2 separate regions of the Homo sapiens genome follow, and region 1 is linked to region 2. Evidence: fine-mapped expression QTL. Tissue or cell type: whole blood. Region 2 holds a variant in brackets; the other region holds the start of a gene. All regions are shown on one strand. Distances are from middle to middle.

Region 1 (8,177 bases), 68 kb before region 2:
TTGGGGGGACAAGATGGGGGTGACGCCTCCCGAGACCGGGAGAGGAAGGCCACCTGGCGAAGCTGCAGTCCCAGCATTATCTGTATGTTAAATTGATGTTTTAAATCAGAGTTGATATCCAAGTAATTAAAGAATAACTAACAAGCACAGGGACTAGTGAGGGGCTGGGCCAGATTCTCTGCAACCCATATGGCTTCACCTACTTTCCAAACCCCCGGTTCTGTGAGGACCGAAAATGACCATCCCAGACTATTCCAGAAACAGCCTGGGGATTCTGAAAGTTTCCCAGAGCATAGGCAGTGAAAGAGAGAGAAGCTCAGCCCTTCTGGAGGGGACGGGTGGCTCAGAACAGAAGGTGGAAAGGGAGAGAAGCTCAGCCCTTCCAGAGGGGATGGGTGGCTCAGAGCAGAAGGTGGGGATGCAGTTCTGGGGGCGCCATGGCCGAGCACCACAGACCCGGGACTTGCACAACAGAAGCGGGTTTCCTCACAATTCTGAGCCGGAAGGCGGAGATAAATGCGTGGGCACGGCTGGGTTCCCCGGACGCCTCTCTCCCTGGCGCAGAGACGATGTGTTGTTCTCCCCGGGTCCGTTCCTGTGTGGGTGTCCGCGTCCCCATCAGGACACCAGTCAGATAGGAGGAGGGCCATCCAGTGACCTCACTTCACCTTAATCACCTCTGGAAAGTCCCTGTGTCCAAGCACAGTCACGTTCTGAGGTCCTGGGGGTCAGGGCTTCAACTTACGAATTTTGAGAGCATTCAAGTCAGCCCACAACAGTGGACTCTGAAATAATCTTTTAGGAACTGGACTCCTCAAGGACGCTTTAGAAAATGCCGGCCTCGTTCTGTTGCAAAGGGGTAACTGAGGAAGAGGGGCTGAATTTTCACAGGAAGACGAGCCCGGTGGCAGGAAGTGACAGTGAGAAACTGCAGCATAAAGCGGAAGCAAAGGCCGACTGTGACTATGTGGTCGCCAGCTCGCCTTCCCCGTCAAACCTTGCTGGATTTTGTGTTTCATTTTCATTGCCAAAAACATCATTCAGGTCGGGTGCAGTGGTTCATGCCTGTAACCCCAGCACTTTGGGAGGCCGAGGTGGGAGGATTACTTGAGCCCAGGAGTTCAAGACCAGCCTGGGGAACATAGCAAGACCCTGTCCCAAAAAAAAAAAAAAAAAAAAAAAAAAAAGGCCAGGTGTGGTGGCACACGCCTGTAATCCCAGCACTCTGGGAGTCTGAGGCGGGCAGATCACCTGAGGTCAGGAGTTCGAGAACAGCCTGGCCAATATGGTGAAACCCCGTCTCTACTAAAAATACAAAAATTAGCCAGCCAATCATGGTGGTGGGTGCCTGTAATCCCAGCTACTTGGGAGGCTGAGGCTGGAGAATCACTTGAACCCGGGAGGCAGAAGTTGCAGTGAGCGGAAATCACACCATTGCACTCCAGCATGGGTGACACAGCCAGACTCCGTCTAAAAAAAATTTTTAAAAAATTAGCCAGGCGTGGCGGTGCATGCCTGCAGTCCCAGATACTTGGGAGGCTGAGGCAGGAGGATCACTCGAGCCTGGGAGGTCAAGGCTGCAGTGAGCTGTGATCACACCACTGCACTCCAGCATGGGTGACAGAGCTAGATCCTGTTTCAAAAAAAAAAATAAAGTCATCATTCTCTCATGTATGTGTATATTGTTTCATTTGTTAATTAAGGTATAATTTTACATACAGTAAAACTCACCATTCTTCGTGCAGAGTTCTCACAAAAGTGTACAATTGTGTGGCATCCACCACAATCCCTGTATAGAAGAATCCCATCATCCCCGGAATTTCCCTGGACCCTTCCATAGCCCCCCAGTCCGTCACCCCCTGAATTGTTTTCTGGCACCCCGCCCCCCTTTCTTTTTGAAGTGGTTGTTTTGCAGGAAACATCACCCTCTCTCATTTTACAAATACTGCAGACAGATTTTGAAGCCCAAAGCATCATAGAGGCAGCAGATCAGGACAGGGAGGATTGAGGCGGGGAGGCTCTACCCTGACTGTAAGAAGCACTTGAGAGACCTGCAAAAAGCCAACAGGAGAGGCAGAGACTGTGGGGGCCAATTGGTACAGGTCCTGCCCTGCATGACAGGGCCAGTGGCCCCCACAGTGCTGAGGATAAAATCCAACTGCTCATCCAGGCTGCTGGAGCCTCCTGCCTTCAGGCCACCCCACTGGCCTCTTGCCCACTGTGCCCCACTGTCCAAGCTCTCGCCTGCCCTGGGAGGGGCCCCTGCAGCTTCTTGTGCCCAGGTGCACGTCCCTCTCTTTTCCCATCTGGGCGCCTGCTGACATTGTACCATGAATTTGAACACCACCCTGCAGATGACCTGGCCTCAGTCCATGAAGTTTCCCTTTCGTCTTCTGCAGGGCACCGGCCCCTAATGCCATCTGACGGTTTCCCTGCTCACAGGATCTTCCATTTGTTAGCCCCCCAGAGTGCCCAGCCCGAGTGAAGAGCATGCAGGAAACAAGCCCCTGTCCTCGTGGAGGCTACATTCCGAGAGGGGAGGTAGGCAACACACACACAAACGACTCCGTGGTATGTCATGCTGCGATGCTGGCTGTGGAGGAAAATGAAGTGAGGCCTGGTGAAAGCCAGAGGCCATGGGGCTGCCGAGGAGGAACAGGGACAGGGTAGGATTTGCTTAGAGCAGGGCAGGTCGCGTGGGACTCTGCGGGCCACTGAAAGGAACTTGGCTTTTATTCAGAGGATGTTAAAGCGTGAGTGACATCCTCTGACCTTTTATAAAAGAGGCAAGAGTCTAGGGAGCCCGGGTAGAAGTGAGGGCGTCTGGAGGAGCCACAGTGGGCTCAGGGAGTGAGCCCACGCGAGGGCGCAGAGCAACTGGACGCTCCAACAGGGCTGGTGGAAGTGCCGAACGGTGTGCATCACCTTGGAAAGCAGGCAGTTTTTAATACCATGAAGCTCGTCCAGCCCTATGATTCGCATTTCCACTCCTAGGTATCACACTCAAGAGAAGTGAAGACGCCCACAAAGGGCTCTGCAGCAGCACTGCCGGTGAGAGCTGCATCCGGGGATGCATGGACTGGCCTGTCATTCCAGCACCTTGGGAGGCCGAGGTGGGAAGCATCGCTGGAGCCCAGGAGTTCGAGACCAGCCTGAGACCTCCAGAGGTGGAGACCCCCCCCCCACCACCTCCACTAAAAACTGAAAAAGAAATTAGTTGGGTGTGGTGTGCGCCTGTAGTCCCAGCATTATCTATATGTTAAACTGATGTTTTAAATCAGAGTTGATATCCAAATAATTAAAGAATAAACAACAAGCACAGGGACTGGTGAGGGGCTGGGCCAGATTCTCTGCAACCCACATGGCTTCACCCACTTTCCAAACCCCTGGTTCCGTGAGGACCTAGAATGACCACCCCAGACTGTTCCAGAAACAGCCTGGGGATTCTGAATGTTTCCCAGAGAATCATTAGGAATTATCCCAGCGGCGCTGGAGTAAGTGGCCAACTTAAAGTTGGACGACACTGTCTGAAACAGTCGCGTAAGGGGTAAGGGTGGAAAGCCTGGTTCTCACTGCGCTGCCGGCTCCCCGCCCCGCTCCACAGCCCCGCGCCGGCGCGGGCTCCCCGGGTCCCCGCAAGCCGCCGGGGGCGGGCCGGGGCGGGCCGGGGCGGGCCCGGGCGTGGGGGGCCGAAGGAGGAAGCGCGCGGGGCGCCATAAGGAGGAAGCGGGTAGTCGACCGTGTCCGCGCGCCTGGGAGACGCTGCCTCGGCCCGGACGCGCCCGCGCCCCCGCGGCTGGAGGGTGGTGAGTGCACCCGCGCCCCTCCCGGGGTACGCGCCGAGCCCCAGCCCGTGACCCCTGCCTGCCGCCTGCCCCGGCGTGGAGCTCAGGGCCCGCCGCCCGCCCTGGGCCCGACCGCGGTGGGAGCCAGAGGAGGGGAGGCGGGGGGTCAGAGCCCCAGGCCTCAGCAGCGACCTGAGGGCCGGGTCTCTCCCGCCTCCCCTCCGCCCGGGCGCCCTCCTCGGCGCGGCCGGCAGGTCGGTGCTGAGGGTCGGGTCCGCCTCGGAGGCGGGGAAGGCTTTGTTGTGTCCTCTCCACGTGGCCTGGGGATTCAGGGGAGGGGTGCGGGGCGCGGGGAGGGGGAGGGGCCGAGGCCAGCCCCGGAGAGGAGAAAACCCGCGGGCCTGGCCGGGTGCAGGCCACCCTTGCCGGCGGATCGGAATCCCCGCCCACACCGTGGTCTTTCCAGCACCGCAGACACCTGCCGGCTCCTCCCGAGCGGAGCTCAGGGCTGACAAAGCGCGGTCAGAGCGGCCGCTTACTGGGGCTCGCCCGCTCCTTAGAGCACTGGCAATGATGTGCGGATCCTCGCTGCTGCTGCTGGGAAACTGTTGAGTGGCTGAATGACCCCAGGGGACCCTGGGAGAGCTCTGAAGCCCTCAGCCACCAAGTGGCTGGGCTGGCAAGGGTTCATTCATTCATTCAACAAATACGAATGTGCAGCGGTGCTGGGGTCATGATGGCTCGGTGGGCAGCGAGGGGCCGGGCCGGCTGGAGGAGCACAGTGCGGATTCTGTAAGTGGGCTGGGGGCTGGGCCTTCTGCGGCTGGACCGGCCTTCACCTGCAGGCAGGGTTGGGGCAGGTGAGGAGCAGATGGACCCACCCAGAGCTCTTCCACCTTCTCAGGCTTGCACCCCCTTCCTGGAGCCTTATCCACACCCTCAGTCCTCGCTCTCACTGTGGGGGAGCTGCAGAGGATGCGGTTTTTCCACATTCCATCTCCACCCACAGGAGGCTTTGAGATGGGGGGAGCTCTCCTGGGCCTGAATGTGTGCCGTCCTGGGGCCCTGCAGTCCCCTGGGAGTGATGACCGAGACCAGATTCCCTGAGCTGGGGTCTTAAGGGTGTGGGGAGCGCAGAGGGATCCTCTGGCATCAGGAGTTGAGGTAGACAGAGCTCCAGGGAGGCACTGCCGGGAGGACGACCCTGGCCAAGCCTCTGCCTGCGGCCCAGGGTGTGCGTCCCTGCCCCTTCTGCCCCTCTTGCCCAGGGAGGGAAGAGGAAATGCGGGGTCAGCAGTTCGTGGCTGGGGTTTAAAGGCAGGGATCTCCCAGGACGGGCACAGGGAGCATGAGGAAGCAGCTCGTGTCTCTGTTCATGAGATGTGAGAGTGGTGACTGAGACGAGGGGTGCAGAGACCTGCCGTGGCTGGGGCGAGGTGCTGTTAGTGCTTCTGAGGAGGTTGGGCAGGATAGACGGTGGCTGTCAGGTGGTCTCAAGGTTGTGCAGGAGCTTGCCAGAGAGGGAAGCGGGGCATGGCCCCAGGGTGGTATGGGGGATTCTAGGGGGAGGGTGCCTGGGTGGGAAGGGGTGTCGCATGCCCAGCTCAGAGGCCTTGCTTAGGGGTGCTCACAGGCTCGGCTGACGTGAGGATGCTGATCGAAGGAGCTGAGGGTCCCACTCATTTGCAAGGGGGAACTGTCTGCCCAGGAGCCCCAGCAGTGCCCAGGCCCCTGGACTGACAAGGATGGATGAGGGTGATGGAGGCGGATGGACATTTGACACTGGAGCCTGCCTTCCAGGCAGAAGGGCCGTGAGTCATCCTCTCTCCGGTGCCAAGTGGAGGGGCTGAGCAGGTCCTCGACGTGACCGAGGACTGTGCCCGTTTTTTCAGGGGACCCGGAGCGCTGGCTCTGGCTGTCAGCCCATGAGAGACCTCCCTGCAGAGCTGTGGCCTCTGGAAATGCTTCCTGTCGTTGACATCTGGTCACCATTCTCCAGCTGGGGCTGTGGAGGGCAGCACAGGCCTGGAGTGTCCCCGAGAGCAGCTGGGCGTCTGCCCCTGCCCACCCCACAGGGCCTCCCACTCACAGGGCCTAATTAGCAGCTCCATGGCTGCCATACCTGGCGGACCGCCCTCAGCGGCCACATATATCCTTGCCCCAAGCCAATGACAGGTCTGAAGAAGACACTGATGGAGCTGAAGCACAGGACAGAGACAAGCACCTGTGTGCCGGACGCTCACGGAGCACTTGATGTGTGCTGACTGGCTCACATCACGGTGGTCAGACGAGGGTAGCATCCCCATTCTCCAGATGGTGTAACTGAGGCAAGGAGAGGCTAAGTAACTTGTCCAAGGTCACACCCGAGGGAGTTGGACTTCAGGGTCTCAGCTCTGAGCATCAGGCACACTGCCCAGATTCCCCCTCCACATGTCACACCTGTTAGGCCACTGGGGGTAAGGAGCCTTTCTGTGGCCTCGCTCCCCTGTGAGCCCCTGGGAGGGAGGCAGCCCAGATTCCAAGGCAGCGAGTGACGTGTGTGGGAAAGGGGAAGCTTCCGGGGCAGGGGTTCAGAAACCTCGCAGTGGGGTTTTCCCCAAGAGCCACTGCTGGCAGGTTCCTACAGCCCCATCCAGCCCCAACACAGCCTGCCTCTTTTCCTTCCTCTTCCTCCTTTTCTCTTTCTGCCTGCGTTGGTCCAAAATGGGGAAGTTTCACATAAATGGCAAACAGGCCACAAAGCAGCTATTTCTGGAGGTGCTGCTGCCTTGCAGATTGAATTCTTGGTTGGCATTTTAGGTGTTTGTTTTCAGGATCCTTTTCTGTAGAAGAAGCCAACAACTAAGAAAAGGAGGAAGTGGCTTTGGGAGGCTGAGACGGGAGGATTGCTCGAGCCCGGGAGGTCAAGGCTATAGTGAGCTGTGATTGCACCGCCGCACTCCTTGAATCCTATCAGCTTGGCCAGGGTGGGGGTGGGAAGTGGGGTCTTAAAGGGGAAAGACCAGCCGGGCGCGGTGGCTCACGCCTGTAATCCCAGCACTTTGGGAGGCCGAGTTGGGCGGATCATGAGGTCAGGAGATCAAGACCGTCCTGACTAAGACGTTGAAACCCCGTCTCTACTAAAAATACAGAAAATTAGCTGTGCGTGGTGGGGGGCGCCCATAGTCCCAGCTACCTGGGAGGCTGAGGCAGGAGAATGGTGTGAACCCGGGAGGTGGAGCTTGCAGTGAGCCGAGATCGCGCCACTGCACTCCAGCCTGGGGGACAGAGCGAGACTCCGTCTCAAAAAAAAAGTGGGGGAAAGATCACCATCTGGATCATAGACCAGACCTGAAAGGGGGCTGGTCACTTTTAGGTACGTAGAGTAACTGGAAAGACACACTGTCCTAGTGGAAGCCGTGGGTGGCCTCTGTGGCTGCTGTGGCCCCAGGGGAGGAGATACCTGTCTTCTGGGGCTGCGGCTCAGTCTGGCTCCGGGTCCGGATCACCAGGGAACTTTCTGCAGAGCATCCTGCCTGGGCTTTGCCTGGTCTGCATGGGATCCCCCAGCCTGTGGCTCAGCCCGCTTCTATGCTCATAGCCATGCTGGCGCCGGGGGCAGTCCTTGGCTTCCCTCCTCGTTGGCTTAACAAACCCCCTTTCTTCAGAGGAAGGAAAGTGTGCCGTGGCCTGGTGGGACAGGCTGGGCTTGGAGGTGCCAAATGTCCTGTGTGCTTGGGGACAGCTGCTGAACCTCCCCGCCGCCGTCACGGCCCTTGGCCAAGAGCTTTCATCCAAGGCTGGCAGTAGTTGCTCTATTTCTGTTATGGGGCACCTCTGCATCTGGGTTTGGTTTAATTTGTGTAACTGAATGTCTCATTTTATTCCTCACATTCATTCTGTGAAGTTTCCCTTGTCTGGGTGAGTGTTCAGGTGACTACAACCCTGGGTCCGGGATGGGCGGTGTTCCAGGAGCTTCTGCTTGGGCCTCTCCCATTCTCCCCCAAAACCAAAGAGAAGGGAAAACCCTTTGTAAGTGGATGTCACATGTCAGGTGCTTTTTCTGATACTGCATGTGATCCCACAAGGCAGGGAGTGTCCCCTTTTACAGACGGGGAAGGTGAGATCACATTGCAGGTTCAAAGCCCGACATGACCTGTCCACCTTTACAGCTTCCCTCTCTGGGCTGGGAGTGCGTGAGGGCTTCTTAAAATGCAGATGGACTTGGGGGATTGAGCTTCTCTGGGGTTCTGGTGTTTTTGTAGGGAGAGCCATCTGGGGTCAGGGCTGGGGTGGGGACAGCAGGAGAACAGGACAGGAGTGGCAACCCAGGGCCAGGGAAGGGAGTAGGCAGGGGTAGCATATGGGGGTGGAAAGAAAGGGGCCAGTGGCACGAAGGGCCCTGGGAGGCAG
Region 2 (8,179 bases):
TGCCCGGAGAATTTTTTTTTTTAATTTTTAGTAGAGACAGGGATTCACCATGTTGCTGGTCTCAAAGTCCTGACCTCAAATGATCTGCCTGCCTCGGCCTCCCGAAGTGCTGGGATTACAGGTGTGAGCCACTGCACCCGGCCAATTCAGATTAAATAGCTTTATGTCTTGCTGTCATGGCCTCCCTACCTTACAATGTATTTCTGTATTTAGGACGTGACATTTTAATGAAGATTCACTGAACATTCTGTGCTGTTATGTAAGAAGTCTTACAAGAAAGAACAGATTACTAAGCTTTTACTCCTGGGGACCAATTCACATAAAACAAAAATATAAAAATAGCAGCCTCTTTTTTTTTTTTTTTTTTTTTTTTTAAGACAAGGTCTTACTGTTACCCAGGCTGGAGGTCAGTGGCGCAATCTTGGCTTACTGCAGCCTTGACCTCCCAGGCTCAAGTGATCCTCCTGCCTCAGCCTCCTGAGTAAATGGGACCACAGATTACTTCCAGTTAATTTTTATATTTTTTGTAGAGATGGGCTCTCACTCACCATGTTGCCCAGGCTGGTCTTGAGCTCCTGGACTTGGGCAATCTGCCTGCCTCGGCCTCCCAAAGTGCTGGGATTACAGGAGTGAGCCACTGCACCCGGTCAATGTTTTCTTTTGTTTTAATAGCACTCTGTTGCCTAGGCTGGAGTGCAGCAGCACAATCTCAGCTCCTGGGTTCTGCAACCTGGGTTCAAGAGATTCTCCTGCCTCAGCCACCTGAGTAGTTGGGATTACAGGAACCCACCACCATGCCTGGCTAATCTTTCTATTTTTTATTTCATTTATTTATTTATCTTTCCTGAGACAGAGTCTCTCTCTGTTCACCCAGGTTGGAGCGCAGAGGCACAATCCTGGTTCACTGCAACCTCCGCCTCCTGGGTTCAAGCAATTCTCCTGCCTCAGCCTCCCGAGTTGCTGGGACTACAGGCATGCACGACCATGCCTGGCTAATTTTTGTATTTTTCATAGAGATGGGGTTTCACCACGTTGGCCAGGCTGGTCTCGAACTCCGGACTTCAGGTGATCTGCCCACCTTGGCCTCCCAAAGTGTTGGGATTACAGGCGTGAGCCACCACGTCCAGCCTCAGTTTTATATTTTTGAGACAGGGTTTTGCCATGTCACCGGGCTGGAGCCTCTTTTTTTTGTTTTGTTTTGTTTTTGAGATGGAGTCTCACTCTGTCGCCCAGGCTGGAGTGCAGTGGCGCAGTCTTGGCTCACTGCAACCTCTGCCTCCTGGGTTCACGCCATTCTCCTGCCTCAGCCTCCCGAGTAGCTGGGACTACAGGTGCCTGCCACCACGCCCAGCTAATTTTTTGTATTTTTTAGTAGAGACGGGGTTTCACCGTGTTAGTCAGGATGGTCTCGATCTCCTGACCTTGTGAGTCACCCACCTCGGCCTCCCAAAGTGCTGGTATTACAGGCGTTAGCCACCATGCTCGGCCGAGCCTCTCTTAATAATTAATGTCATAATGAAGAGCAGGCTTTCACTAAAAGAAAAAGAGCTGTTTTGGATAATATATTACTTACAACTTATCATATTAGAAGAATAATATCTACAAGTAGCCTCGGAACCATTCTAACAATCTAAATAGTTTTTAATACAAAATATTTGTGTTGTTGAGAGTATCTGTCTCTTTGGCTTCACTGACATAAAATGCAAAGGAGTAATTTCGAGGGCTCAAAAATATAAAACTCATGGGATAAACCATGAGTTTAAATATGCACAAAGAAGCAGAGAACTGCGTCTTTTTTGTTTTTGTTTTTAAATAAATGAAGCCAAAGGGTTTGAGTAACTTGCCCAAGGTCCCTTAGCTTGCTATGACAAATTGGATAGCAATAATAGGTAACCCTTATATAATTCTTATCATGTGCCCTTCTAAAGTCTTCACTTCATCTATTGAAACCTCACAACAATGCTATGAGAGGATTATTATTACTTCCATTTCACAGACATGGATACCAAAACAAGTAAAGAAGATAAGTAGTTTTCCCAAAGTAATAAAGCTGGGATTCAAGCCCAGGCAGTTTGCCTCCAGGGTCTGTATTTTTACCAACTATGCTGTCCTACCTCTTAGATGAAGTCCCTGATTGCTTTCTGGTGCTTTTCTGTCTGTAATATAGTACCTTTTGAGTTAATGGCCAGAAGTATTCATAGATAGAACATGTTATACTTGGTGTTTTTTTTCAAGCAAACACACAGATACATGCATTAAACTCTTCAATTAAAAAGGGAAGTAGAGAAGAAACCTAAGTAGATAAAAGGAATATAACAAAATAAATGTAAAATAAAATACAAATATAACTTTGCTTTGGTGGTAGGAACTAAGTAAAAAACTAAGTAAAGGAACGTATCAAAATAAATGTAAAATAAAATACAAACATAACTTTACTTTGGTGGTAGACCTAAGTAAAAATCAGGTTGACAATTGCTCAGAGACCTATTACAAAAATTGGCTGCATCATGATGTCTATATTGATTGTATTTTTTTGTTTCACTTTTTTTTTGGTGGGGGCAGGGGGTCACATCAGTTACAAATTATTCTGCCCCCTCAAGCAATATTTTACCTTCTGAGACACAGCTGCTGCTGAGCTGAGCTCCTATGAACTTAACTTTTCCATCTGAAGAAGCTTTGGCAAAATTCCAAAGCCCATCTACGTTGGTAAATTTTCTAAGGACTCATTTCCCTTAAGATTTATGCCAACAAACCTCTATCATTACTTCTCAGACTTTATATATATATCTGTCAAGAAAAAGAGCTGTTTTGGATAATACGTTAGTTACAACTTACATTAGAATAACATCTACAAGTAGTCTTAGAACGATTCTGACAATCTAAATCATTCTTCATATAAAATATTTGTATTGTTGGGAGTATCCATCTCTTTGGCTCCACTGACACAAAACACACAAAGGCTCCACTGACATTTTGTAACTTTGAGGGCTCAAAAATATAAAACTAGCCGGGATCAACCAGCTAGTTTTATATTTCTGAGGCCTCGAAGTCGCAAAATGGAAACAGATCACTGCTTTGGACCCTTATAACCAAATGCGCCTCTCAGATCATTATTAACCTAAAATAAGAAAATGGAGAGTGCTGAAGAAATTACAGAGAAGTAATTTTCCACCCAACTTGATGAGGAAGATCCACAAAAAACACATTTCAGAGTACAACACAGTAAACATCCACACCCACATATACAGCAGGCAGATTT[TC/C]CCAAAACAGTACTTACTCTTACTAAATTGATTTTAGCTGCAACCCACTTCATTAATTTCAGATCATCCCTGTGTGTCACCTCCCACAATATGAAAACTATTCTAACAAATTATTAACCTAAAAGCTTCCAAGAGATAGTCTTTAAATATCCTAGATTAAACAAACAAAAACCTATTCTAAAATCAGAAGCTTCATGTCAAGAGAAAATGACAAAGATTAATTTTATTCAAAATACTTAAATATTACAATAGACAGATGACATTCCCTCCAGTAATCTTTTATGGAATCTAAAAGTAAATCTTTCACAAGAAGTATTTATCATGTGACGACGGAGAAAGTAAAATACAAGCCTTACCACAGTGGACTTGCTCTGCCCTTTCCAGGAGACAGACAGACTTCTAACGTAGCAACACAAGCCCAGGAAATGAAAAGAGAATGAGGAGGGAGGGAGCAAGGATGACTCAGGGAGAATCACAGCACATGAACCAGTCTGTGCCCTCACCGGGCTGCAGGGCAAATAAAAGTCAAAACTGAAACTAAGAGGAAATGGTGATCAGACTTAAGGAGAGGGAAAAAAACCACACTCTTCAGAGACGCATGTGAAAACCTGGCATTTGTAAAAGTGTGACATTTTCACAAAACACTTTCACATCATTATTTTTGTGAGACAGAGAAGCTATTCTTCCCTTTTTGTAGTTGAAACTGAGGTTCAGAGAAGTTAAATGAATCCTTCCAAAACACAGGGCTAGTATTTGGCAGAGCTGGGGCAAGAAACAAATCTTGTGATTTCTAATCCTTTTCTCAGTTCATCATTCGCCGGGTAAAAAGGCAGAGTGAAAAAAAAAAAAAAACAAGGTAGAAAGAGAAAACAGGCTGGGCAAGGTGGCGCATGCCTGTAATCCCAGCACTTTGGGAGGCCAAGCGGGGAGGATTGCTTGAGGCCAGGAGTTTGAGACCAGCTTGGGCAACATAGTGAAACCTCTCTCTGCAAAAAATAAGCCAAGTGTGGTAGTGCATGCACACCTGTGGTCCCAGCTACTAGGGAGGCTGAGGTGGGAGGATCACTTGAGCCCAGGAAGTTGAGGCTGCAAATGAGCCATGATCATGCCACTGTACTCCAGCCAGGGCAACAAAGCAAGACCCTGTTTCTAAGTCCTAGCCATTTCTGTTAATAATTCAGAAAACAAAATATTATTTTTCTCCTTCAAATCTATATGTCCAAAGCCTGCCTGTTCCTAACTGACTATGTGCTATATCACTCCATTCATCCAACAGATTATGGCTGCTGGCACCACCTCCTCTGCTGCAGGTTTTCAAAAGTAGCTGCACCTTGAGAGGTAGGCAGTTTGTTTCACTTGATGTTGTGTTCAAGTGACTAATGACAAATACATTCCCCGTGGAAATCATACCACAGGCTTTATATAACAGACATGCGATATCATGTGGTCAAATGATTCTCTTCTGGAAGGGTTTTAAGAGCTGTCAATGTAATGTTCAGCACACAGTATCTTAAGGAGATTCATGTTGACAGCTTATGTCACAGGATACATTTTCACCAACTGGCATTAAAAAAAAAGCAATATCGGCCGGGCGCGGTGGCTCACGCCTGCAATCCCAGCACTTTGGGAGGCTGAGGCGGGTGGATCACGAGGTCAGGAGATCGAGACCATCCTGGCTAACACAGTGAAAACCCATCTCTACTAAAAATACAAAAAATTAGCCGGGTGTGGTGGCAGCCATCTGTAGTCCCAGCTACTTGGGAGGCTGAGGCAGGAGAATGGCGTGAACCTGGGAGGCGGAGCTTGCAGTGAGCCAAGATAGTGCCACTGCATTCCAGCCTGGGCGACACAGGGAGACTACATCTGAAAAAAAAAAAAAAATGCAGTATCTTGGGTTTTTGTTTGTTTGATACAGAGTTTCGCTCTTGTTGCCCAGGCTGGAGTGCAATGGCACGATCTCAGCTCACTGAAACTTCTGCCTCCCTGGTTTAAGCAATTCTCCTGCCTTAGCCTCCCAAGTAGCTGGTGTTACAGGTGCCTGCCACCACACCCAGATAATTTTTTTTTTAATCAATCAAAACCTTTAATGCTCAGTTTTCACAATCAAGTCTATCAAATTTCCAGATTTACAGCAAAATGTGCCCCCTAAAAAAGTGTACATTCTTCAGTTTCTCCTATACTTTTTTTTTTTTTTGCCTATCTTTCAAAACTGAGCACTGGGTATTTTTAACATAAGCCATGTCATATGTACAGTTTAACTATGTTTCAGGAATAAACAAAATTCATGATATTTTAGTAACTCACAGTGTATTTATAGAATGAAAAGTTCTCTATCAAAACACACTTTTCACTGGGAAAAATAAATAAAATAGACAAATGGATCTACACAAAGTAAACATTAACTTTGGTAGATTTCAGTGCAGTTCATAACAAGCATATTTGCCCTTATTCCCCCAGAGCTGCTCAACTAAGAATTTTTAAAATACTTTAACTGAGATTTTATTATGTTGACATTTGTTTCTCATTCCACATCATCTTCAGCCACACCCAGATGATTTTTGTATTTTTAGTAGAGATGAGGTCTCACCATGTTGGCCAGGATGGTCTCAAACTCCTGACCTCAGGTGATCCGCCTGCCTTGGCCTCCCAAAGTGCTGGGATTATAGGCATAAGCCACTGCACCCGGCCTAATATCTTAGTTTTAAACACAAGCAAATGGAGAGCTTAGACCGAACAATGTGAAATACAGATTGGACATTCAAATTTAGAGATAAAACACATTTGAAATATTAATGAAGGCCAGGTGCAGTGGCTCATGCCTGTAATCCCAGCACTTTGGGAGGCCTAAGTGGGTGGATCACTTGAGGCCAGGAGTTTGAGACCAGCCTGCCAACATGGCGAAGCCCTATCTCTACTAAAAATACAAAAAGTAGCTGGTCATGGTGGCACACACCTGTAATCTCTGCTACTCAGGAGGCTGAGGCACAAGAATAGCTTGAACCTGGGAGGCGGAGGCTGCAGTGGGCTGCAATTGCGCACTGCACTCAAGCCAGGATGACAGAGCAAGACTGTTTCAAAAAAAAAAGAAGTATTAATGAACTAGTTATCCATGCAGTAGATCTTTTCTTTTGGCACAGATACTGGAGTTGAGTAATATACTTACTTTCTCTGTAACCAATTACAATCACCAAACAAACCTTGATGTACTACATCATCATAAAACTGAAAGTTGAGAAGGGAGTGCATAATATTCCCTGCATTTTTCTTCCCTTGTTGTAAAGCACCATATGGGATAAATGGCAGTTAACCTGGGATGTCTCCTGGCTATCATACAAACCATACACTACAATAGCCAAAGGTTTTAAAAAGTACTTAAGTAGGAAGACAACAATAACAATAAATTGTCGCAATTCTTATTTTTAAGAACAGCTCAAAAAATATTTTTATTTTCCTAAGACAAATGTTCAGGATTTTATTCAGTAAGCATTTACCAAGCACGTAAACCTAGGATGTTCGATATTAGTATCCATAGTAATTAAATTTACATATTTTAAAAATTAACTCAAACCCTCAGATGCATAGTGGCTAAAAAACAATAATGAGTAGTATACTTTATGAAAAGTACTCTCTCTACAGAATCACTGACTGTTGGGCAAATTACAACAAATAAACTTAAAAACCATTTCTAGGCCCAAAGAAAGAAAGAGAGTCCGCATAAATGTCCAGGGGTCAATAATTACAACTTTTAGTCACCTACAATTGACAGAACTAAAGGGAAAATGGAAAATCTACCACCATAGTAGCAAATAGAACATGTCTCTCTTAGTAAATAATTAGACAAAATAATTGGAAATGACTGAAAGATTTAAAATACGTATTATTAAGACTGATTAAATGTAAATGGACACGTACAGACTTCTGCACCAACCATTAGAGAATACATGTTCTGAAACATACATAAAAATATACATGTGTGTATATACATATACATATGTGTGTGTGTGTGTGTATATATATATTTTGTTGTTGTTGTTGTTGTTGCTCTGTTGCCCAGGCTGGAATGCAGTGGTGCCATCTTGGCTCACTGCAACCTCTGCCTCCCGGGTTCAAGTGATTCTCCTGCCTTGGCCTCCTGAGTAGCTGGGATTACAGGCACATGCCACCAAGCCCAGTTAATTTTTTGTATTTTTTTGTACAGATGGGGTTTTGTCATGTTGACCAGGCTGGTCTTGAACTCCTGACCTCAGGTGATTCACCCACCTCAGCCTCCCAAAGCACTGGGATTACAGATGTGCACCACTGCACCCAGCCCTATATATATATTTTTTAAATTGATCATGATAGTAGGCTATAACTCAAGTTTCAATGCCACGATGGTCGTGCTTTCTGATGAAACAGAATTAAATTAGTAATTGAAAACAAAATTTTTAAACCTGTAAGTATTTAGAAATTAAAAAATACATTTCTAAGTAATTCAAGGGTCAAAGAACATATAAGGAAAATTTATAAACAACTGAACCAACTGAATAATAATAATAATTACATATCAAAAAGTACGGGATAGAGCACGGCACAGTGGTGGGCACCTATAGTCCCAGCCTGTGCTCTTGGCTATTCAGGACCTGAGGCAGGATCACTTGAGCCCAGGAGTTTGAGACCGAAGCCTGCCATGATAGTGCCAGCAATTAGACACTGCACTCCAGCCCGGGTAACACAGCAAGAACCCATCTCTTAAGAAAAACAACAAACCTAATTTTTTTTCAAGAAAATATTTTTAATATATAACAGCTCATACCCAGCCACCTTGCTGAATGATGTACTCTGCCGAATAGTCCTCCAGGTATGTCACGCCAAACTGCAGCAGTGCGCTCAAAGGTTCTTGACCACGTCTTGTCAATTCCAAAAGCATTTGTCGTAGC

The links. PIP is the estimated chance that this variant, and not a neighbour inherited with it, causes the effect.
Region 1: it holds the start of BID, and the variant in region 2 is fine-mapped to the expression of BID in whole blood (INTERVAL, PIP 0.99).

What each region holds. Positions count from the first base shown.
Region 1 is chr22:17,770,010-17,778,186 of GRCh38, reverse strand. It overlaps BID (BH3 interacting domain death agonist), which reads left to right and starts at 3,718. Exons shown (of 6, transcript NM_001196.4): 1 at 3,718-3,806. LINC00528 (long intergenic non-protein coding RNA 528) reads right to left here and starts at 897. Exons shown (of 1, transcript NR_103718.1): 1 at 1-897. RefSeq lists enhancers at 383-862, 6,250-6,389 and silencers at 3,590-3,689, 3,710-3,759, 3,780-3,849, 3,880-4,209.
Region 2 is chr22:17,702,263-17,710,441 of GRCh38, reverse strand. BCL2L13 (BCL2 like 13) reads right to left here. Exons shown (of 7, transcript NM_015367.4): 6 at 8,056-8,179. Among named protein-coding and RNA genes, the nearest start is that of MIR3198-1, 58 kb to the left of the region's middle. RefSeq lists enhancers at 4,010-4,059, 4,080-4,129. The variant TC/C (reference allele first, on the strand shown) is at 3,260.